Linked DNA regions of Homo sapiens. The protein of the gene in region 4 purifies or fractionates together with the protein of the main gene of each other region. This does not show direct contact. Each region holds a gene or a part of one and is shown on either strand. Other genes may lie near its edges. The genes, in order: SAP130, MNT, KDM5A, MXD1 and SUDS3.

Region 1 (4,616 bases), about 58 Mb from region 4:
CTAAGTTCTGGTATCCAGATCCAAAATATATGGAACAACTGTGGTGTAAGACCTAAATTTAAGATTCAGTGTTATGTGATATTGTGACATCTGAAATAGGGGGAGCCTCAAACGGCCTAACCGAGAGTCCCTCCTCCCAACTCTGCTCCCTCAGATGAAGTCTCCTAGGCAAACAACCCTTCATACCACAGGGACCAGGCACACAATTCCTGCTCCTTGCTGAGTAGTAGGCTCCAGTTCCCTGCCAGCTTCCAGTATTCCAATTTCCAATGTTACTCAGATAAGCCAGTCACACACATCATCATTCAGAGACCGGGGCATACCTCTCCCTCTCTCCTGTTCTTTTTTTTTTTTTTTTTTTTTTTGAGACAAGGTCTTGCTCTGTTACCCAGGTTGGAGTGCAGTGGCACGACCATGGCTTACTACAGCCATGATCAACCTGCTGGGCTTAAGTTAATCCTCTCACCTCAGCACCCCCAAACAGCTGGGACTGCAGGTGTGAGCCACTGCACACAGCTGATTTTTTAAAATTTTTTGTAGAGGCCAGGCACGGTGGCTCACATCTGTAATCCCAGCACTTTGGGAGGCCGAGGTGGACAGATCACGAGGTCAGGAGTTCGAGACCATGGCCAACATGGTGAAACCCCTGTCTCTACTAAAAATACAAAAATAAGCTGGGCGTGGTGGCAGGCGCCTGTAATGCCAGCTACTCGGGAGGCTGAGGTAGGAGAATTGCTTGAAACCAGAAGGTGGAGGTTGCAGTGAGCAGAGATCATGCCACTGCACTCAAGCCTGGGCGAAAGAGCAAAACTCCCTCTCGGGGAAAAAAAAAATTGTAGAGACAGGGTCTCACTATGTTGCCCAGGCTGTACTGTGTCTTAATTTTTAACAAGTATAAAAAGTTAAAATTTTTTTTTAATAGAACATAAGGGGCCAGGTTCAGTGGCTCAGGCCTGTGATCCCAGTACTTTGGAAGGCTGGGGCAAGAGGATTGCTTGGGCCCAGGAGTTTGAGGCCCACCTGGACAACATAGTGGGACCCTGTCTCTACAAAAAAAAGTGTTTTAATTAGCCGGGTGTAGTGGTGCACACCCCCTAGTCCCAGCTACCTGGGAAGCTGAGGTGGGAGGAACTCTTGAGCCCGGAAGACCAAGGCTGCCCTTAGCCATGATCGCACCACTGCACTCCATCCTGGATAACAGAGTAAGACACTCTCAAAAAAAAGGAAGAAAACAAAGTTTATAGAATAAAGATACAAAGAAAGAAAATATTTTTTGTAACCGCCCAACAGTATCCACATTTGTCCAACAATATGTGTTTTAAGCTAAGTTTTATTGCAAAGGAGTCAAAAAGTTTAAAACAATTTAAAAGTTTATAAAGTAAAAAGAGTATGCTACGGTTAATTTGTTATTGAAGAAAGAAGAATATTTTTAATAGATTTAGTGTAGCCTAAGGGCACAGTGCTTATAAAGCCTACAGTAGTGTACAGTGATGTCTTAGACCTTCACATTCACTCCCTGCTCACCCACTGACTCACACAGAGCAACTTAACAGTCCTGGTAGACTGCATTCATGTAAGTGCTCTTTACCATTTTTAATCTGTCATGCCGTATTTTTGCTGTACCTTTTCTATGTATAGATACGTTTAGATACACAAATACTTAACACTGTGTTTCAGTTTCCCGCACTATTCCTTGCAGTAACATGGTGTACATGTTTGTAGCCTAGGAGCAGTAGGCTCTATCATATAGTCTAAATATGTGGTAGTTCATAACATCTAGGTTTGTGTAAGTACATTCTGTGATGGTCACACAACAATAAAATTTCCTAAAGACATTTCTCAGAACGTATCCCTGTCATTAAGCAGAGCATGACTGTATTTGTGACTCATAAACTGCTGTTAATCTTATCCATCCAGTGTTGGATCTTATATGTTTGGCCATTTCTATAACCCTAGGGCAAGAATCCCTCCTTCACCAGCAGGTGAAGAGGAGGCAACAACCTCATAAAGTTTTTCCTCTTCAGTAGCAGTGACCTGAAGAACATTGTCTGTTGTCAGTATCTAAAAAAATGTAGTGCCTTGGCTACTTCTGACTTAGCAGAAATCACTTCTATGAAACTTGGAGACTTGTGTTTCAGAAGAATTGTGGATTCAAGGCAGTATTCAAAAGTTATCCTTGAAGATAGGCTCTGAACTATGGCAAATTATAATGTAAATCTTTGTTGATCAGTTTCCTTTACTGTTTTTATTTTATTTATTTATTTATTTATTTATTTTTTAGATGGAATTTCGCTCTTGTTGCCCAGGCTGGAGTGCAATGGCGGGATCTCAGCTCACTGCAACCTCTGCCTCCCGGGTTCAAGCGATTCTCCTGCCTCAGCCTCCCGAGTAACTGGGATTGCAGGCATGCGCCACCACGCCCAGCTAATTTTGTATTTTTAATAGAGATGGCGTTTCACCTTGTTGGTCAGGCTGGTCTCAAACTCTGGACCTCAGGTGATCCACCCGCCTCGACCTCCCAAAGTGCTGGGATTATAGGCGTGAGCCACCGCGCCCAGCCCCTTTACTGTTTTTAAACCTTAGTATCTTAGTCCTTAGGAGAAAGGACGTTGTCACCCAAACAACTCTTAGACAGTTTACAAAGGTGATTGAAGGTGGGTTCATTTGCCTGGGGTTGACATAGAAAAATATTTCCGAGCTTATGATACCCTCCCTTTTGTGTGTTGCAGACGAATCTAGAACATGATGTCTATGAAAGACTTACTAACCTGCAGGAAGGGATTATCCCAAAGAAAAAAGCAGCAACAGATGATGATCTCCACCGAATAAACGAACTGATACAGGTTTGAGTGCGCCCCTTCCCTTCTGATCATCTACTTTATGAAGTTGCTTTCTGTAAAGCCCTACTTCTCCCGTTTCCCCCCGTCTCCCTCATATCTTCAGTAAAAACATACGTGCTTCAGCCTGCACTCCTGAGAAACAAAAAGACATTTTCTCTGTTGTGGAAGCCTCAACATGGCCTCTGCCCAAAGGCAAGCAGTTTTTTAAAAGCTGTACTATCCTCATGGTCACTGATTGATGATGCAATGTCTTCTGTTTCAGGGAAATATGCAGAGGTGTAAACTTGTGATGGATCAAATCAGTGAAGCCAGAGACTCCATGCTTAAGGTTTTAGATCATAAAGACCGTGTCCTGAAGCTGCTTAACAAGAACGGGACTGTCAAAAAAGTGTCCAAATTGAAGCGAAAGGAAAAAGTCTAGACCCAGAACAATCAGGAGATTGGAAGCAAATTTATGAAGAATGATGGTGGGGGTGGGGGGAGGGTTTTGGTTTTTTCCAAAGTGGAACATTGAAATAAAGGAAGTGTTCCTTAGTTCCCGTGTGAAAGCAGAGGAACCCATGACATCCAAGGGCGTGAAAGGATCAGAGCTGACTGGACATAGTGAGCTGCCTTCTTGCGTTCGGGTGCACCCCTGTTAAACCTGATCTGTGTCATAAGTGACTCCGGATGCATCAGTGTCCACCAGTTGGAAGCAATGACAAGGATGGCTGGCTGGTGTTTTTCAGCCTTCCGGTTTATAGACTGTATTTATCTAGTGGATTCCTGCAGGCCCCATACTGAGCCTGGACTGAAAGTATCCACTCGGACCATCTGTTATCTCTCTACACTGAAAATAAAACCTCTTCCACCCACCCCATTCGGTTCTTCTGCCTGACCTTCAAATGCCCATGTTGGCCTTTTACAGCAGTGCCACGGCACCAAGCGAGCTGCCACATCTCACACTCTAAAGGGTTTGAACTATTAGTTCTTGTCATTTTTTAAAAAAAACCATTCCCAAGTGAAATTGTTATATCGTCTGTCTTGCGTGTGTCAGAACTGGGTTTTTGTGGAGGTTCAGAGCAGGCAACACCATAAGTTGCTCTCAGATCCTTGTTCTGAAGTACATTCTTGGTTATCTGTACTTCTGTAGCTGGTGTGATGCTGTTAATTGTATGTACCACACATCTCCAGACGTTAATAAAGGACTCAAAGAGGTTTTTGTACTTGCGCAGTTTGCATCTTTTTGTAAAGTGAATCAGTGCCATACTGACCCTCACTGAAATGTTTACCCTGCTTCAGTTTTTCACACATTGTTGGGAGCCTACTTTGTTTGTTGAAGTTATGCTGTTCGCATAGAGTTCCTCTTAGAGGGTAGTCTAAATATGCTACAGTGGTGAAACCTGTTGGATCTTGGCTCCCTTAAATACGAGCCTGTATTGTGGCCCAGTGCGGATAAAAATTGGTCCGATTACAGGACTATTAAGGCTGCAGTACTGGGGGCGGAGCTTTCGGGCGGGTGGATCCTCTCCACACATTGCTCTTCGTCTGAACTAACCTGAGTGGAAAGGCAGCTCAGATCGGCTTCCTTTGGGCACAAGACCAACCGTCTCCATCTGGCCTCCATGTAACAGACCAGGAAAGATTTTTCTCAGAGGCTTCTGCCTCTGCAGACACGACGTGACCACCCTCCTTCCTTAGGACACCTGCTTTCAGCTACCAGGTTGGGGCTAGAGTGCTTCCCTTTGCTCTGAGTTGAACAGATTTGAGATGGGCCGTGTTCCATTTCTACCCATG
Region 2 (4,616 bases), on a different chromosome or scaffold from region 4:
CAGGGTCTGGCAGTGGAGAGTGCCCCTGGTGACCAAGAATGTCCTACGTTTGGGCACAGGGGTCAGGGGAAGACCGTGCACAAGGTTCGGAGAGATTAAGTCACCTGCTGCCGCCATCAACACGTTGCAGTTCGAGTACGCACTGTGTTTAGGCCGAGTTCAGCGGCCTGGTCACGACTTCTGTGTGCCGGTCAGAGGTCTTTGTAGATGAGTGGGTGCGGAAAGCTAGATCTACTCAAAAACTCATGTACGGGTGTCCGGAACCGATCCCAGCAGTTTCTCCTCCAGAATTCATTTTCTTCTCCCTCTTGAGGTTCTGTCCTCTGAGCTGGGGCAGGACGAATGGAAGGAAGGGCATGGCAGGTGAACCTGCTGACCAGAACGCTTTCCCGGGACCTAGGACCAGCTCTGGACAGGGATCCTCTTGTCCTTTCTCCCTTTCAACCGCAAGCATGGGTTTCTGACCTAGACCAGCCAGTTTGCTCACATGAGGACCCCGCAGATGTGTGTGCCTGTGAGAGAGAGGGGAAAGGGCAGAGCTATCCTGGTGCCCAGACGGAAGGCCTGGCCTGGTCATTTCTAGTGTTCATAGAGGTGGCTCAGATGCAACTCTTCTGCCTTGTTTCGAGGGAGTTGGTTGGAGTGTCCAGAGGCTCCTGACCAACTCTCCAAGGCTTACCCTGGGCCTGCCTTAGGCACCAAGCCTCCTGTTTAGCGTGCAGATGGGAGAATTCCTGTGGCTGCTGGGGCCCACCAGTGTGGACTCCTCCACCCCTAGCCCTGTGCCTGCAGAGCACCTGGGCCACAGTCACTTGGGAAGGTTGAAGGGAGCACGCTGGCTCTGCTCTTGACTGTGGGCGGAAGCCTTGGCCCCTGGGTCACTGCAGAGGGGCATGCTAAATTCTTTGGGGGCAGCCTCTGGGTGGAGCCCAGGGAAGCATGTGAGGGGGCGCACCCTGTCTGGTGGATGTGCAGAACATTCTTTTAAAGAGCCTAAGCGCAGGGTGCTCCTGAGGGAGCACCAGCCACCACCAGTTTGGTGGTTCTCCAGTGCACAGGGAGAGGGTTGCCGCTGGGTGGGAAGGGACAGGAAGCTCCGGTGGGCTGGATCTGGCCAGGGGCAGCTCCTCTTCCTCACCACCTGTGGAGCTTTTTCATGCTGCTCCAGGTGTAACTGGGTCCTTCCTGGCACCTGTGAGGTGTACCGGCGTGGTTCTGGGTGAGAGAGGGCAGGTGAGAAGGAGGTTGCTACCTCCCAGGTGAGCTTTGGGATTGCTTTAAAATATGGGGAATGGGGGTTGGCTTGCACTCTAGGGTCCCACATGTCCTTGTGACTCAGGGAGGGCCCTGATTGTTCCTCTGCCTATAAAGAGTGGAGTCCATGTCTCAAGGCCAATGAAAAGTTAGGTCTGTGTCAGCCAAAGGAATGGAGGCAGGGTCTGTGTTAGGCCCTGGGATCCAGAGCCTTGTCTTGGGGTAGGGGAAGGGGCTGGGGACAACTGAGGCTGTGCCCGACTGAGAAGGGCCCTGTCACTGGAACTCAGCAGGCTGCTTGGCCACTGCGGTCTGTGGGAAGCGGGAGCGCAGGGCTGGTTTTCTCCCGGGCGTAACCTAAGGCCTCCCCGCACTGGAGCAGGCCTGCACCGGCCTGGCATCGCCCCTTCCCGAAGGGCTAGGGAGATCTGGAAGAGGCCCGCTGGCTGGCCCAGCCCCTGAACTCCGGCTGCTGGGAAACCACTGAGGCTTCCCCTCCCAGGACGCTTCCCCCTCCGCTTCCTCCTCGGCCTCTTCCCTCTGCAGGAGGGCGGGGCTGGGAGCAGGCCTGGCTCACACTCCAGTTGTTGATTGGCCAAAGGGCCTGAGGCCTCAGGTTTTCTGGGGCGCCTGAGCCAGTAAGAGTGTGGGAGGTGGGTGCTCTCCTCCCCAGGGGGCCTTAGCCGACTCCAGTCCCCCACGCCACCCCTTGCCCGGGTGTTTGGGGCGTGTCCACGAGCCCGGGCTGTCTGCTGCGTTCGTCAGCGGAGCGGGGCGGGCGTCCGGGGTCAGAGGAGAGGGCTGCTTGTCCCGGCGGCTCCCTGGCCTGGAGTCTGCAGACTCCAAGGGCCTGGGCCAGCCCCGTAGCCAGGGAACCAGAATGGTGGCGCCTGGGAGAGGACGAGGCAAGCGGGAGATGGAGGTGCCTCCCCTTCCCCTGTTGGCAGCCAGCTCCTGAGTGGGCCTTGCCTTCCTGCTGGGCTTTCAGCAGGGATGCTGAGCGGGTGGTGGGGTGCACTGCCCTGCTCAGCCCCCATTGAAGAGCCCAGCCCCTTCTTGTTTGGGAGAAATGGTCGCTGCTGTACCTCCTCCTCCTCAACTGCCCTCTCTCACCCAGAACCAGGCAGGTGCACTTTCCCCGGTGCCTGGCTGGAGTGGTTGGGTATTTGTATTGTCTCAGGCTGAGCGGGGTGTCACTGAGGATGTCAGAGGATGCTTTAGGCCTGAAGGACAGGACATGCTGGCGCTGCTGCTGGTGGTGGGGATGTTGGGGATTTGGGGAAAATGAGTTATAACACGAGAAGGGTCAGAGAGGGACGAAGTGTGTTTGTTGAATGGTCCCTGAGGAAAACAGGCATTGGGACCTAGCCTCGGAGTCAAGAGTGCTGGGCTGTTTCCACATGTGTGAAATGAGGGTGATGTCCCTGTCCTGCCCATGATGTGACGTGGGGCTCTTGTGAGGATCCAGGGACTGTCAGCACTTCCTTGTGAGCACGGCAAGCGTCCTCCAGGGGTCAGGAGGCTTGCTGTGGGACCTGCAGCGAATCACTTTGCTCCCTGAGCTTCACTGACTTCATCTGTGCCATGCAGGCACTGCCTGCCCTCTAGAAAGTGCTTGGTAAACATTGTTAAAGGCCTTCCACGGAAGCTGGGATCTGTCAGCACACCCCCCCCTCTGGTGTGAAGTCTTGGGTGGCTGGGCCTCTGCCCGCCTCTCCCACCTCGGCCCTGTGGTCCCCTGACCCTCGCTGCCCTCACCCGCCTTCCTCCTCACCCTGCAGGCTGGCAGGTGGCCTGCAGCACCCTCTGACAGCTCTGCTCCACCTTTCCAGGGCCGCCTGTCCTGCCCGCAGCCCGGACTGTCAGCCCCCGTGACTGTCAGCCCCCGTGACTGTCCTACTATTCCCTGGTGGCGGGGAACAGGTCTGCTTGATTTGTTCACTGCTGTGCCCCCGGCACTTTCCCCCGTGCCTGGCTGGGCTGGTAGGCTATTTGTGGTGTCTCTCGCTGAGCAGGGGTGTCACTGAGTACTGACTGGGCTAGGGTCAGAGGACGAGTTAGGGCTGGAGTTCTGGGGCCCCGCTGAGACCCTCCCCCCCTTGTGTTCTCTCTGTGTAGAGGAGCAGGAGCGGCTTCGCTTGGAGCAGGAGCGAGAGCAGGAACAGAAGAAGGCCAATAGCCTGGCCAGGCTGGCACATACCCTTCCTGTGGAGGAACCCCGCATGGAGGCGCCACCCCTGCCTCTGTCTCCACCGGCTCCCCCGCCGGCACCCCCACCACCACTTGCCACCCCTGCCCCACTGACTGTCATCCCTATCCCTGTGGTGACCAACTCCCCTCAGCCTCTACCCCCACCCCCACCCTTGCCCGCGGCAGCCCAGCCTCTGCCCCTGGCGCCTCGTCAGCCGGCCCTGGTTGGCGCCCCCGGACTCAGCATTAAGGAGCCTGCCCCCCTGCCCAGCAGGCCGCAGGTGCCCACCCCTGCTCCCCTACTGCCGGACTCGAAGGCCACCATTCCACCCAATGGCAGCCCCAAGCCTTTGCAGCCCCTCCCCACGCCTGTCCTGACCATAGCGCCACACCCTGGAGTCCAGCCTCAGCTGGCCCCCCAGCAGCCGCCCCCACCCACGCTGGGGACCCTGAAGTTGGCACCAGCTGAAGAAGTCAAATCCAGTGAACAGAAGAAGAGGCCCGGGGGGTGAGTGGGGTGTGGCGGGGTCGGGCTGGTGGGGGATAGGAGAGGTGCCCATCCCCCGGGCTGTGTGCAAGACAAGGTGCCCTCCCCAGCTTAGAAGTGCCCCCTGTATTTGAACACGTCATCACTGTGCCCATGTCTATCCTGGGAAGGAATGTCCCATTGCCCCCCGTTCCCAGGCTTCTGTGTTTCCTAACGCAGTCCAAGGCTGAGGCTTATGGCATTCCCAGGCCTCTGGACAGAGTATGGGCCTCTTGGGTGAGGGCTGGGGTCAACCGGCTGCCTCTGAGTCCCAGGAGTCCTCCTGTCTCCCTCCTGGTGGGACGGAGGGTGACAGGAGTTGTGATTATGAGCACAGATGTGTCCTCCAGGGGGTGGGCGCAGCATGGCACAGGGCGAACGTCTCCCAGTCTGCTTTAAGACAGTGTTGGGGACAAACAGCCTGTGGCAATTTTGCGGGTGGCGGCGCTGGTCAGGAAGGCCGTCTAATCGAGTCCTCCTCCCTGAGCCTCCTATCTGTCTGGGTTTCAGGATCGGAACCAGAGAAGTCCACAACAAATTGGAGAAGAACAGGTGTGTGTGTGTGTGTGTGTGTGTGTGCGTGCGTGCGTGCGCGCGCGACCCGGGCCCCGGCGGCCCTCGGCCCCAGCTTCCCCGGTCCTGCCTC
Region 3 (4,616 bases), on a different chromosome or scaffold from region 4:
TTTCTTTTATAGAGATAGGGTCTCGCTCTGTTGCCTGGGCTGGTCTTAAGCTCCTGGGCTCAAGCGATCCTCCTGCCTCAGTCTCCCAATGTGCTGGGATTACAGGTATGAGCTACTGCACCCAGCTTGAACAGATTATTTTTTTCATTGTATTAATGGTATGGTATATTTTTTCTGTTAACTACTTAAGTGGAAATAAGTGTAAGGAAATGATTGTTTATTGGTAGCATGTAAATTCACAGTCAGGAATGATGGTGATGCCAGACAACCACAAATTGTCCACACTGGTGGCTGAGCTACTGACACCTTTCTTTTCTGACGGTCCAGTATACACAAGCGTTATGCACCAGATTATTAAAAATATTGCATAAAATTACCTTAGCCTATGTATAACTTTATATGAAACAAAAGAATTTTGTATTTAGGCTTGGTTCTTTCTCCAAGATATCTCATTATGTATATGCAGATATTCCAAAATATGGAAAAATCTGAAATCCAAAACACTTCTGGTTCCAAGCATTTCAGATGAGGGATACTCAACCTGTATTAAAATTATTTTATCGAAAAGAATTGCTCATTCTGTCTCTATAATAAAGAAGACTTGTAAGTTAGTCTATTAGCACCATGATTTGTGGCAAAACCCCCCTTTAAGGGAATAATTAATGCATTCCTTGTTTACATACCACTGTGTTTTTTTAAAAAAATCTTTCTATTTAGGACTGGCAGCCTCCATTTGCCTGTGAAGTAAAAAGCTTTCGTTTCACTCCAAGAGTCCAGCGCCTGAATGAACTTGAGGTAAGTGTTTTGTCACTATTTCTGCTTCCTGATTCATTCTTTATATTAGGGCTGTAGGTAGAGAACTTTGAGAAGCTCATGTACCACAGCCTAGAGTTTGTGTTAATTGGTATTGAATGGAATAGTTACTTGATGTTTGGAGGAAGAGTATGATTTTTTAAAAACTGTGCAAAGTTGTTATGGTTTTTCCATTTAACTGAGAAATGTTCAATGCTTAGCTTCAGAGACTTAGAATTCTTAAATTCTACTTTCTCTAGTGTTTCTTACTCTACTAAAATTTTTGTTAATCTTGGAAGATTTCTTTCTCCCTCGGTTCTTGGAAAATGGATTTTTAAATCCTATTTTAAAACCCTAGTTTTCAGAGTTTGTTTTGTTTTGGTTTGGTTTTGGTTTTGGTTTTAATGGAACTTTGCCAGGAGTGTTAATCTGATTTATTAAGATTTTAAGTATTACTTTTTAATTACTTTAAGTATTATTTTTTAATTACTTTAAGTATTACTAATTTATCTTAAATTTTCTAAATGGAAGTGTACGTTTTGCTGTTTTTTCTGTTTATGGGTTTTCAGAAGGTTCTTCATTGTGATATGAAAACTTTTAGAGTACAGAAGGAAAATTATTGATAGCAAAGGTTTATTATGTCATTCTGAAGTTTTTTTTCTTTTCTCCCCAAAACATTTCTGAGAGTTTAATACATACTTTTTTTTTTTTTTTTTTTCCAGAGAGTCTTGCTCTGTCACCCAGGCTGGAGTGCAGTGGTGCGATCTCGGCTCACTGCAACCTCTACCTCCCGGGTTCAAGCGATTCTCCTGCCTTAGCCTCCCTAGTGGCTGGGATTACAGCGACCATGCCCAGCTAATTTTTGTATTTTTAGTAGAGACGGAGTTTTGCCGTGTTGGCCAGGCTGGTCTGGAACTCCTGACCTCAGGTGATCTGCCCGCCTTGGCCTCCCAAAGTGCTGGGATTACAGGCGTGAGCTACCGCGCCTGGCCGCAATGCATATTTTTTCTTTTTAGTCTCTTGTAATTAGATACTTGACAAAGCATATTAGTATCAGTGAGGTATAGAGTTGATGCACCTAAAGTGTGCATGTTACATATGGATGAAATGACAGAACGTTAGAGACTGAAGAGAATCCGATCTACTGAATTTTCTGATCAGCATAGAGTTAAACCAACTTACAAAAATTGTTTTGGTTGCTAATATGACAACTTTTTACATAAATCAGAGTAACTTTTTTGCCTGAATAAATATAGTTTATTAGAAGTCTTTTGCCTCTTTATTATTGGCTAGTTTTACTATTGGCTAGTTTTACAGGGTTGAAATAAGCAATAATGAAAAAAAGTCTTTGAATTTCTTTAGAGAAATGAGTACCTCTATTACAGCTGTCCCAAACCTTTTTGGCACCAAGGACTGGTTTCATGGAAGACAGTTTATCCATGGATGGATGGGGGTATGGAGGATGGTTTTGGGATGAAACTGTTCCACCTCAGATCATCAAGCATTACTTAGATTCTCAAAAGGTGCTCACAACCTAAATCCCTCACACGCAGTTCACAATAGGGTTTGTGGTAATGCTTGCCCGGTTGGTTGCCCACTGCCGCTGCTCACCTCCTGCTGTGTGGCTGGGTTCCTAACAGGCCGCTGATGGGTACTGGTCCACATCCTGGGGTTTGGGGACCCCTGCTCTGTTATTCTTATTCATTTCAATCATAACTTAGTTCTTCTGTATTTTAATAATCTTAGGCAATGACCAGAGTGAGATTGGATTTCTTGGATCAACTAGCAAAATTTTGGGAACTTCAAGGATCTACTCTGAAGATCCCTGTGGTAGAGAGAAAAATCCTGGATCTGTATGCTTTGAGCAAGGTGAGGCTCATACTGGTTTAGAAATTAGAGCACAGGCTTGTGAATTTAGGAATATCAAATAGATTTGGTAGGAAACATTGCTTCCAATAGAGGATTTGTTTGACAATGAAATGCACTAGCTGGGTATGGTGGCGCATGCCTGTAATCCCAGCTACTCGGGAGGTTGAGGCAGGAGAATTGCTTGAACCCAGGAGGCGGAGGTTGTGGTGAGCTGAGATCGCGCCATTGTACTACAGCCTGGGCAACAAGAGCAAAACTCGGTCTCAAAAAAAAAAAGGACAATGAAATGCACATTTGAATAAATGGAAATGACAGTTCTCAAAGTTATCTTTAAAACTTATTTTATATTTGTTGAGATCAATATTTAATTACTAAATATTAATATTTATCAGGCTCTGTGATATACAATATGCAAAATAAATTACTCTAGCCTGCTAATGTTATCTTGTGCTGAGTGTACAATGTTCTGTGTTGAGCTTGTCATCTTTTTTTTTGTTACTTAATTGAAAATTTGGGCCAGGCACGGTGGCTCATGCCTGTAATCCCAGCACTTTAGGAGGTTGAGGTGGGAGGATCACTTGAGCCTAGGAGTTAGAGACTAGCCCAGGCAACATGGTGAAACCCTATGTCTACTAAAAATACAGAAAAGCTAACTGGGCATGGTGGTGCACACCTGTAGTCTCAACCACTCAGGAGGCTAAGGTGGGAGGATCACATGAGTCCGGAAAGTCAAGGCTGCAGTGAGCTGTGATTGCGCCACTGCACCTCAGCCTTGGCCACAGGAGTTAGACCCTGTCTCAAAAAAAAAAAAGAGAAAATTTGGCATATTAAAGAAACTCATGTTTCTCAGCATTCTTATGTGTGGTATATATTAGTTTTGTTAATACGTGTATGTAGTGTTAATGGCTGACTGAGGCCATCATTATTCAGTAGGATGACCAAACAGCTCAGAAACTTAAGGGTGAAGAGTTTAGACAAGTTTTTGCTGAAATTGTGTTAATTTTTTAACATTATATTCCCTAATGTGAAAAAAAAAAACTAACTGACCTGCAAGCTGAGATTATAATAACCTTGAGATATGTTTTTTTCTCTTTTTTTTGAGATGGAGTTTTGCTCTTGTGTCCAGGCTGGAGTGCAATGGCCTGATCTTGGCTCACTGCAACCTCTGCCTCCCAGGGTCAAGCAATTCTCCTTCCTCAGCCTCCCGAGTAGCTGGGATTACAGGCATGTGCCAACACACCAGGCTAATTTTGTATTTTTTAGTAGAGATGGGGTTTCACTATCTTAGTCAGGCTGGTCTCGAACTTCTGACCTCGTGATCCGCTCACCTTGATCTCCCAAAGTGCTGGGATTATAGATTACAGGCGTGAGCCACCGCGCCCGGCTAAAATATGTTTTGTTACTACAATAATACAAATTTATTATTGCTTAATTATCTGGGAATTTTGTAAAACAACTTCTTCTTGTGGCCTTTCATATCTTATAATTTATATACTATTTTGAAATAAAAATTTATTCTTATTTAAATTGCAGTTACTTTTAGAAGATTTCACTTTTTTTTTTTTTTGAAATGGAGTCACGCCCTTGTTGCCCAGGCTGGAGTGCAGTGGTGCCATCTCGGCTCACTGCAGCCTCCACCTCCCGGGTTCAAGTGATTCTTCTGCCTCAGCCTCCCGGGTTCAAGTGATTCTCCTGCCTTGGCCTCCCAAATACCTGGGATTACAGGTGCCTGCCACCACACCTGGCTAATTTTGTATTGTTAGTAGAGACAGGGTTTCTCCATGTTGGTTAGGCTGGACTCGAACTCCTGACCTCAGATGATCCACCCGCCTCAGCCTCCCAGAGTGTTGGGATTACAGGCGTGAGCCACCATGCGTGGCCAGGAAGATTTCACTTGTAAGGAAAAACATGAGAATAATTCGTGGCATGTGGTGGCTCATACCTATAATCCCAGC
Region 4 (5,314 bases):
TCAACCTGTAAGAACAAGAATAAACTGTTATCCAAGGGTTATGTAAACCAGCAGTAATCTCTCCCTATCCTTTACCTCAGTTCAAAATTCTGACCATACATGGCTGAGGATATAAAGCCGATTCAAACCATGGGGTCAAGCTGCTTTCTCCATTATGATTGCTTGTTCCTCAGAAAAGGAGCTATTCCAAATGAGTCATGAAGGAAATGATCACACTGAAAGAAAACTGCCTGCTCTTGCCTCACACGTTTGGCTGGTGCTACCTCTAGGTTTAATCATGGTCTCTCAGAAATCCTTACACCACTGAATATATTACACTAACTCACTATCAGTCAGGTGTATGGACAACTGTGATAATCCCGTCTCTAACCATGGAAAGCAAACCAACCCATTAACAGAAGGATTTGTAGCCTTTATTTTTTTTTTTTTGGCATAGTACTGATTATTAAAGAGAAGATACTAGAAAGAATCCATTTCTTGGCTTAAGATTCTTAACTACTATTATTTTTCTTTCCTAATCACCTTTTGGGACCAAGCCACTTCAACATCTCATTTTCTTATCCCCACTAGTGAACATCCCCTACAACCTTCCTGTGAAACTAAGGAAAAAAACAAAGTGTTAAGGTATTAAGCCTCAATAAGTAACTTGGACAATTCCTCTCAAATCATTAGTGGACAATAATAAAAGCAAAAATGGATGATGCTTTTCCAGAAAAATTAACTGAAAGGCCTCAAAATTCTTCTAAACAAAATTAAAAAAATATTGTAACAAAATGCAACACAGCTTAATTGGTTTTACACCATTGCATATTACAAGTCAGTATTAACATCTTTCTTAAAGTGCCTTCATACCCATGCACAAAACTACTGGCTACCACCTTCAGGTAATGCTAAGGTGGGAGGACAAGCAAAACCTACCAGGTAATTACCAGGTTGATCCTTCAAGTGCCATTTTTATTCAAGGGCATGGCACAAGTAATGCTGCTCACATCCTGTGGTTCCACTAACGATACTAAAGAGGTAAACCAAGTACAGAAGACGCAGCAAGAACAAGTGATTTTTAGGTTTAAGTGGGAAATTCCTGGTCTGTATTAAGCCACAGAGGATATCCAAATAGATACTTGCAAGGAGTTATTCATGAGGGTGAGGGAGGGATAAGGATTCTAAACTAGTGACGAAAAGGTCAATGCTTTTAATTTACTGGCAGGAAAGGTATAGTTGAAGGGATCTAATAGAACAAATTTCCTAGCCAACTATATTTTAAGGGCAAAGAAGGGGGGAAACGGGCAGCAACATTGATGGACTATTTGCATGTACCAGAAACTATGCATAGGACTTTAATATGTGATTTAACTGACCATGAACCAAATCTCCAGTGAGATTCACAGCTTTTAAGAACTACGGTATAAGATAATCGATAAGGCTAACATGGAAAAGTTGTAGCATATTAATATTTTGGTATTATATATTCCTCTATCACTAAAGAGGTAGGTTTTAACCTCAATCATTCCTCTTTGCCATTACAAATAGAGATGACAAATTAGAGTATCAAACAAACCACTGTATTTAATTTACATGTCAAGTATGAGATCCTATCACTTATGCCAAGTCAGGTACTTTAATGTGTTTATAAAATCATTACTATGAAAAGTAAAAGAAATGGATAATGTCCAGCATTTTGACTTATAGAAAACTTGCCCTGAATCTGCAACTTCTGAAGGGAAAATACTGTCACCATTGCTAATCTCACTTGAAGCTTCCACAGATTTTTTTGTTCCAAAAGGGAAGAAAAGTGAAATTAAATTTTGAATAAAGTTCATAAAGAAATGTAAAACATTTCTATTTTTCTTTTCAGTTCCCTCAACCCAAACAGAAACAGCTTCCTGCAATGGCTTAAGTCCATGTGTACATTACTGAATCATGACGGCCACAATGTAATTTTATAGGGTTATAATCACAACAGAAAACTTACATTCAGCAGTTTGTGTCACCTACAATATAATCTAAAAGACAGAAAGAAGTATTTACCAAATTACCTGCTACTGCTGTTATTCTTTTTGGATTTGTTCCTCCGTTTTAAGGCATCTCTGTCCTTGTTATTGTATGGTAACATGGAGGCATAACCATGTTCAGCTTCTAGAAAACAGGAGGATCCAGTTAATGAATGGGCCCAGAATATTTAATGCTCTCTCCTCTCTACAGTATTTCCTTTTTCCTTTATTTATCTTTAAAAGAATATTGTGGAAATAATTAAATGGAGTAAGGTGGAATTCTGAGAACAATGATTTAAAAAAAAATTGTGTGAATATCGTCAATTCGGAGCAGGTGTAAGGAGGATTCCAGCTGCTCATTGTTGAGAAAGACACAGTAGTGGCTAGGCTCACGCAGCCTGGGTTTCCCACTGGCTACATCCAGCAGGTTGGTGCGGGTTAAGTGGAACCAGCTCAGGCGAAGGTGCGGGGCAAGCACCGTGAGCCGGGGACCGGGAGGCGCTGCTCCTCTGCCCAGGAGACTGGGGCGCCGGGCCCACCTGGGGGCCGGCCGGGACCAGCCCGGGTGAGGTAAACCAGGGAGGCTATCGGAGGGGGCCCCGGCCACCCACTCGTGAAGGGCTGGGGAAGGGGCGGCGTTCGGGACCCCGGCGGGCGGCAGCCCCTTCTCCACCCCATTCATTGCTTTGGGGCAGCGGCGGCTTCCCTTCGGACCGCGCGTGGGGAGAGCCAGAGGGGTTGGGAGCGCTCGCGGTCTCCCCGCCTCCAACCACCCCCGGAGCGGCTGGGCGCCCGGACCTGAGGCCGGCCCCACAGGACCCCCGGCCTCGTTTCGAGTGGACCCCTCCCCGTCCCCGTGCACCTCTCTCCCGCCGCTCCAGATAGTCGGCCGCCTCCAGCAGCATCTGGATGTTCATCCGAACCGCCGCCGCCATTCTGCACCGGGGGCCGGAGCCACGGGACCAACCCCCACTGCCCACGGGCTCGCTGCCGCCGCCGGACCGCTGTGGAGCCCGCTATGGAGCCCGCTGTGGAGCCCGCTGTGGACCCCGCGGAGCAGGGCTGAGGGAGCCTCTCTGGCAACCACGCTCGACAAGAGAGGGAGGGGGCCAGTGAGCTGGGCACCGCCGACACAGTGACAGAACCCGGAGCAGAGCAGCAGCCGCCACCGCCGCGGAGTGTTTATCCCCGACTCACCATCTCCCCGCCCCCAGCCCCTTCTCTTGACAGGCCAGCTTCGGCCGCGTTCCTCATTGGGCCCCCCAAAGAATGCCCCGCCCCTACACTTGTGCGATTGGGAGAGGGCTTCAGGGCTCCACCCCGCAAAGTCCGCTCCTCTCGCTGGTTGGTCACACTTGACAAGGCCCGGGCTCCACCCCCTCTTTCCAACTGGTGACAGGATTCGCAACTCCGCCTCGTGCTCCTTCCTTGTTTCCCATTGGTTCTATACCAACAACCCGGGCCCCCTTTTGCTTTGTTAGTATTGGCCAAGAGCTGCAGAAGGCAAGCACCTCGCCGGTCTCCCATTGGTGAAGCCTTCGGAAACCTCCCAGCTACGATGATGTCACCTTTCTCCAGGCCAGGCGAGCCCTAAGTGGCTGATGGTCAGCAGCCTGGCTGCTCCTCACCGGGTCTGGCATTGGCTGGGAGGGCCGGTCCGGCGCTGGGCGGCGCTGATTCACCAGCCGCTGCGGAGCTCTGCTCCACCCGGCCTTGCCTCGGACCTGTTGCCAAGACCTGTCCCCGGGGAAAACTTCCGGGGACCTGCCAGGCGTCCATCGAATGGAAGGCTGGCACCTCGTGTCGCCTGGGCGCTCTGCCCCGCTTGGGTTCGGGGCCGGAGCCCTCGGTCTGGTGGCCGCGGCCCTGGAGGTTCTGGGCTTCGCGGAACTCGGGCTGGCGAGGGCCCAGCCTCGAATCCTCCCGAAGAGCGGTGCAGGCTAGTGGCCGGTGAGCCGGGAGCTAGGGCAGGCGCCACGTGGCTGCTGCGGGGCTTGAGAAGAAAAGCCGGCCGTTGTTAAATGCTCGCCGCTCGGCGTTTTTTCTGCCCTCAAGAAAGAGCTGGAATCGGGCTGCAGTATACAGCATTGAGCTCATGCGCCTTTTCCGCACCCCCCTCCACCCCCGGGAAGTGATGGAATAATTAATTACTTTCACGCGAGCGGCTTTTTAAAGCTCAGAGACTTCCTGAACCTACAGAATGGCATTAAACCCTAAGATTCTTTGCTTAAATCTCTTTTGGGGTTTTCCCCTCCCTTTTAATTCTAGATGAAAACACTCACAAGATTATTGTTTTTGTTTGTTTGTTTTGAAAGGGAGTTTTGCTCTTGTCGCCCAGGCTGGAGTGCAATGGCGCGATCTCGGCTCACTGCAACCTCCTTCTCCCGGGTTCAAGCGATTCTCCTGCCTCAACCTTCTGAGTAGCTGGGATTACAGGTGCCCACCACCACGCCCGGCTAATTTTTGTATTTTTAGTAGAGACGGGGTTTCACCATGTTGGCCAGGCTGGTCTCGAACTCTTGACCTCAGGTGATCCACCCACCTCAGCCTCCCAAAGTGCTGGGATTACAGGCGTGAGCCACCGCACCCGGCCAAGAATACTCTTTAAGACGTCTGCAAATTGTGTGTTTCCGCATGGGGTGGTACCAATATAAATGCTTAATAGAATGTTACGTATACAGAACTAAAAAGGTTAAAGATCGGTCCCTAAACCTATTAAAATTTTTGAAATGAAAGCTATCTGGCAAACCAAGCTACACTGCCAATGTACTGACAGACATCTCCAATTTTAAAAGTAGAAATAAAGTTCTTGGTAGGTTGAGTCCCCAAAATACAAATGAGTAAAGCATGAACATATTTCTTTTTTTAAAAGTTTATTATTGTTGCCAATATATAATAGCTTACTATGTGTAGGTATCCTACCTACATTATCTCTAATCCTCAATATAACCCCATGAGGTAGGTTGTGTTAATTACATTTTGCACGTGAAGAAACTGAGGCCCAGGGAGGCTAAATGATTTTCCCTGTCATGCATTCAGCTGCAGACATGGAAACTGAACCTATGTATGTCTCACCCAGAGCCCAAATTACCAATCCTCCTGTTGGTAGTTGTATAAAGACAAGGTGGTTTAAACAGATTTCCAGACTGAGTCACAAAACACTGACAACTCAAGTACTGAAGAAAAAGAAAGACAAAGGTGTAAATGTAATTATGGTGGGAAATATTAAACATGTATTTTTTAATGTCCACAAACCCACTAAAATTAAATCAACTCAATAAATAGAATAAACATGTAGTAAATCATGCCTGACATATAGGCAT
Region 5 (4,616 bases), on a different chromosome or scaffold from region 4:
GATAATGAGACACCTTACAGTAACCCAGAAAAACATTCTCAATATAACCAAACAGAAAGGCAAAGCAAACCGTATGTCCACTATGCCTTAGAATGAATAGACTATGCCTGCATATGGATAAAGAATAAAAAGAAATATATCAGAATGAAAAGACCTGAGAAATGATGGCAGTATCCATTTCATATCTAGCAGAAAGCGTAATACAGAACAGAAGAAATGTTTGTTGAATGAACAAAAGTATGAGCTTTTAAGGTTCTTTCATACTGTTTTGCCATTACCTTTCCAATGAAAAATGCTAGGCGGTCTGAACGTTTCAAAGAGTCTTCAATGTAAACCAGGAATGCAGGACACAGTGGCTCATGCCTGTAATCCCAGCACTTTGGGAGGCCAAGGCAGTAATATCATGTGAGGTCAGGAGTTCGAGACCAACCTGGCCAACATGGCGAAACCTCGTGTCTACTAAAAATACAAAAACTAGCTGGGCATGGTGGCGGGTGCCTGCAATCCCAGCTACTCGGGAGGCTGAGGCAGGAGAATCGCTTGAACCTGGAAGGCGGAGGTTGCAGTGAGCCGAGATTACGCCACTGCACTCCAGCCTGGCGACAGAGCAAGACTCCGTCTCAAAAAACAAAAAACAAACTAGGAATGTTTTAGGATACAGTTCCCCCAAGCAAGTGTCCTTGACCACTTTTGCAGCTGGATCATGTAAGAAAAAAGGGTATGTGTCATCAAAAAACATCTAATAACATCTTAGAAATTCACAGTGTACATTAGCATATCGCAGGACCCAAAGGGTACTACAAGGGAGCAACCCACTTATCTTAATTAACATGATCATCCCCCAAACTGATTTGACCACAAAATCCTTTAATCCGAAGAGCACCTATTAACCTTAGCACACAGGAGCAGAGGTAAGAGGGGTCAGAGGGGGGACATACACCCCAGCCCCAGTTGGCAGGGGTACCACACAAGATACCAGCCTGCAAATTCTAGTACAGAGACACCAGAATGGAGAAGGAAGGGGAGCAGAACATGGTTTTGGGAAACGCTGCTTTCAAAGATCCACCGGAAGTATTGATTAAATGACTGCTAATACATTTTTTAATGGGTTTCTACTTTTAGTACTATGTAAGTTTAGCAGCAGCCGTGATCTGAAATAACTACAATAGCCCCAGCCCTCTTTCCAAGTGGTTCATATGAGACTCTTACTAGTCCAGGTTTTCCCATAACATACCATCTTTTGTCATAGTACAGTTTGCCATCTTCTATCCGAGCTTCGAACCTCTGGGCTGGAGATTCCGCGGGTGTTGCAGGCAAGTGCTCAGGAGAGGATGGAGATGCTGGAGGAAACCAATACTTACGTGACTAAGAATGTAACAAACACATGCGAGTCTACCAGTTAACATGCTTTAATTGAAACACTATCAGAATGTGGTAATAATCATCACTGAGCCCTTACAGTGATAATGCATGGGATTTCAGCAAAACTCTTGTATATTCCATCTAAACTTGATCATCAAAGCAACCCTGGGAAGTAGGCAAGGCAGATTAGCCTCTCAAATGGAAGAGACACCTGGGTTTCAGGAAGATTAAGGTCAAATGTGCAAATACATAAGGTCACTTAGAGTAGGACTAAAGCCCTGGTGATCAAAGGGCAAGTATTATGAAAATCTCTTAAAAATGCAATCGTTTTCAGCAGGGTGCGGTGGCGCACACCTGTGATTCCAGCATTTTGGGAGGCTGAGGCAGGTGAATCACGAGGTCAACAGATGAGACCATCCTGGCCAACATGGTGAAACCCCATCTCTAGTAAAAATACAAAAGTTAGCTGGGTGTGGTGGCACATGCCTGTTGTCCTAGCTACTTGGGAAGCTGAGACAGGAGAATCACTTGAACCTGGGAGTCGGAGGTTGCACTGAGCCGAGTTCACGCCACTGCACTCCAGCCTGGCGACAGAGCAAGACTCCATAATCCAAAAAAAAAAAAAAGGAATCACTTAAAGAACTACTAACTTTACACTCACACAACTCCCTCACCCCTCCCCATCGTGCCTCAGAAGGTCAGGATGTCTGTGGACCGCAGTGGCCCCCAGGAAGATATTACCTAGAAAAAGAAGACTCTTGTTTTCTTCCACAAGACTCAGTAAGTAGAGGGATGTGTGAGTAATCGAGTAATCGAGTAATCATGGTGCTTTAAACAAAAAAAAGATGTCACCAATTCAGAATTCTAGTTGGCAGCTAGCACTGATGATCTCAAGTGCTGTTCCGGAAGGAACAACTATGAATACTGAGCTGGTTGGTCTCTTCTATGAACTGCGAGTCAGAGCAGCCTTGGAATGCCTTACCAGAGTCAGGCCACGAAAAGCCACGGGAGCAGAACTGCCTAGGACTTGGCTTTAGAAAGCCAGTAATACTTAAAAATCCTTCTGGTTTCATTTTCAAAAATGGATGTGTACTTAAATCTTATGCCTGATGCCTACACAGAAGGAAATCAATCAATCAATCAAATGTCTCTTTTATGATAAATCCTAAGAAAAAAATAAAAACAACAAAGCAGGGGTTATGAAAAAAAAAGAAATCAGGGAGGGGTATAGTTAAGGTCCCCTTCAGTTTTCATGATGACTACTCTTAGGCAAATGATGAACATTTCATTTTTGAAAATTGCAACCATTTCCTGACAGGTATTCACACCCTTTTCCAACAACATGATAAAAAGGTTGCACAAATGCCAACACATCATGCACTCACCTGGTCTCTTGGGTGACTTAAGCTGTAGGAAGAACAACAACAAAAAATCTTAGAGAAAATCATTTCAGGTGCAACTTCAGGTGTCAAAGGTATCATAATGATTAACAAGTAACATGTTAACAAACAAAATCAGAAAACCACAAAAGCCTGAGTTTTCAAATAAATCAAAAAAGTCAAACCGTACCTTATTTAATGTTCTCAGATCCTCCATGATCTGTTCATCTGTTAACAAATAGTTTAGCTGGGGTGTTGAGAGTTAAAGGACTGTATGTGAAAAGTACAGTTTCCAGGCAAAGAGTAATCAACACAATGGTACCAGTATTTTAGAATTTACAAAGTATGATTTTGTTAAATGATGTTTCTACAGTAACAGTTTGCTTCTTAGAAATTTATGATTCTCCTACTAAATGTCATGGTACTTCAATACATAAAAGAATTCACATCCCCCACTGCTAGGATGAGAAGGTGGAATGAGCTTCATTAGGCATCTACAATAACACAGCAAAGGAAACAGTAAAATAAGAATTTCATCATGAATGTATAAAGCGCTTTTGTTCCAAAGATCTAAAGACTTCCACACACACTCACCCAAGGTAAGGCCAATCTTCCCTCAGCAACTTAACTCCTGTTGTGAAGGAGAAGCAACCTGAAGTTATGCCCTTTCCTGATGGTACACAAATGACTAAGCCATTTTGGGCAGAGAGCTATTCACCATCTCCTCGAAAGGAACAGAAACAACGCTTCTCCATCTTTCCTGTTTCCGTTACCATTTTTATGATTAAAGGGCTGCTTTATGTCTGACTGAAATCTCATTTGCTTTAATTTAAAAACAGGTTGCAATCCACTACATTATGGACATAGATAACAGAGGTACATAAAGGTAGATATTACTGCCTTCATTTTACAGTTGGAAGGTGGAAAATTACAGGTGAAAAAATTAAGGCACATCAAGTTTTCAGATGCCCCTGAATCTTGATGTTAGCATTAAAACCAGGCTGAACTTTGCATGCAAAGCACCTTTCCAAATCACAACTCTATACATCTCTCCCACCAAAAGCAGTAGCAAATGAGGACTACCATGATAAAATGAGCAACCCCTGACCTGTGGACAAACATTTAACACACGCTTTCCAGTTAAATGTTACTATTTTCTGTAGGACAACGGCCATGTGTACCCTAGCAAACGGATAAACATAGGATTCCACAGTCTTAAAAAAGAAAGGCGGTTAAGGCTTGATGTAAATGGATATCTGGAGCAGGTTTCCTCCTCTTGTCTGGGATGGGGACGGGATCATTTGGTCGCCTCCGCAACTTTCTGGTCATGATAGGTTTCACCTCCATAGAATCTGTGGCAAGAATGGAATGGGTAAATCTATCCAACTCCCACTTGAAGTCAGTAAGAATTTCTATAGTATAAGAATATCTGCCCCCCAGCCACCCAATCAGAACTGTTTTACTGGGGGTGTTTGTTCTACACATGGTCGTAGCCAGACACCCCATTAGATTTTAGAAAGCGTTTATACTTGTAAGATTCAGACCAGCTGCCCTAAGTGCACACCCCTCTCAGAAATGCAGCCCTACCGTCAAGCATTACAGCCACTGTGGGCATCTCTCCAGCACCCTCAAAACCTAGGGGATATTCCTCCTCTCCCTCAAATTAAGAAGCCCAGAGTCACAGGCTCTCGGGATAGGAAGGAACCTGAAGGTCATCTCAGCTGACTAATTTCTGCAGCTCCCAAAGAGGGTGGGTGTGCTGAAGCCCATTGGTATGAAAGGCTCTTTTAGAGGCCACTGGCCTCAGTGCCAACATTTTTATACGAAGTTTTCATTTACAGACTCGGATTTTTTTTCTCTATAACCTTTTGTAGC

What was found.
Region 1: the proteins of MXD1 (region 4) and SAP130 purify together in Homo sapiens (affinity purification with mass spectrometry; 3 studies listed by BioGRID and IntAct, with this or other methods). This does not show direct contact.
Region 2: the proteins of MXD1 (region 4) and MNT purify together in Homo sapiens (affinity purification with mass spectrometry, with the first as the bait; one large-scale study listed by BioGRID). This does not show direct contact.
Region 3: the proteins of MXD1 (region 4) and KDM5A purify together in Homo sapiens (affinity purification with western blotting, with the first as the bait; one study listed by BioGRID). This does not show direct contact.
Region 5: the proteins of MXD1 (region 4) and SUDS3 purify together in Homo sapiens (affinity purification with mass spectrometry; 3 studies listed by BioGRID and IntAct, with this or other methods). This does not show direct contact.

Annotation. Positions count from the first base shown.
Region 1 is NC_000002.12:127,940,651-127,945,266, reverse strand, and holds the end of SAP130 (histone deacetylase complex subunit SAP130), read left to right. Parts: intron 1-2,729; coding exon 2,730-2,843; intron 2,844-3,102; coding exon 3,103-3,261; 3' UTR 3,262-4,045; downstream 4,046-4,616. UniProt on the Homo sapiens protein: Acts as a transcriptional repressor. May function in the assembly and/or enzymatic activity of the mSin3A corepressor complex or in mediating interactions between the complex and other regulatory complexes.
Region 2 is NC_000017.11:2,394,211-2,398,826, reverse strand, and holds part of MNT (max-binding protein MNT), read left to right. Parts: exon of another isoform or gene 1-38; coding exon of another isoform or gene 39-135; intron 136-3,372; coding exon 3,373-3,952; intron 3,953-4,480; coding exon 4,481-4,522; intron 4,523-4,616. UniProt on the Homo sapiens protein: Binds DNA as a heterodimer with MAX and represses transcription. Binds to the canonical E box sequence 5'-CACGTG-3' and, with higher affinity, to 5'-CACGCG-3'.
Region 3 is NC_000012.12:382,076-386,691, reverse strand, and holds part of KDM5A (lysine-specific demethylase 5A), read left to right. Parts: intron 1-717; coding exon 718-795; intron 796-2,538; coding exon 2,539-2,661; intron 2,662-4,616. UniProt on the Homo sapiens protein: Histone demethylase that specifically demethylates 'Lys-4' of histone H3, thereby playing a central role in histone code. Does not demethylate histone H3 'Lys-9', H3 'Lys-27', H3 'Lys-36', H3 'Lys-79' or H4 'Lys-20'.
Region 4 is NC_000002.12:69,912,943-69,918,256, reverse strand, and holds the start of MXD1 (max dimerization protein 1), read right to left. Parts: upstream 3,149-5,314; 5' UTR 2,927-3,148; coding exon 2,854-2,926; intron 2,137-2,853; coding exon 2,037-2,136; intron 1-2,036. UniProt on the Homo sapiens protein: Component of a transcriptional repressor complex together with MAX. In complex with MAX binds to the core DNA sequence 5'-CAC[GA]TG-3'. Antagonizes MYC transcriptional activity by competing with MYC for MAX binding.
Region 5 is NC_000012.12:118,400,136-118,404,751, reverse strand, and holds part of SUDS3 (sin3 histone deacetylase corepressor complex component SDS3), read right to left. Parts: intron 4,094-4,616; coding exon 3,998-4,093; intron 2,994-3,997; coding exon 2,932-2,993; intron 2,770-2,931; coding exon 2,748-2,769; intron 1,341-2,747; coding exon 1,235-1,340; intron 1-1,234.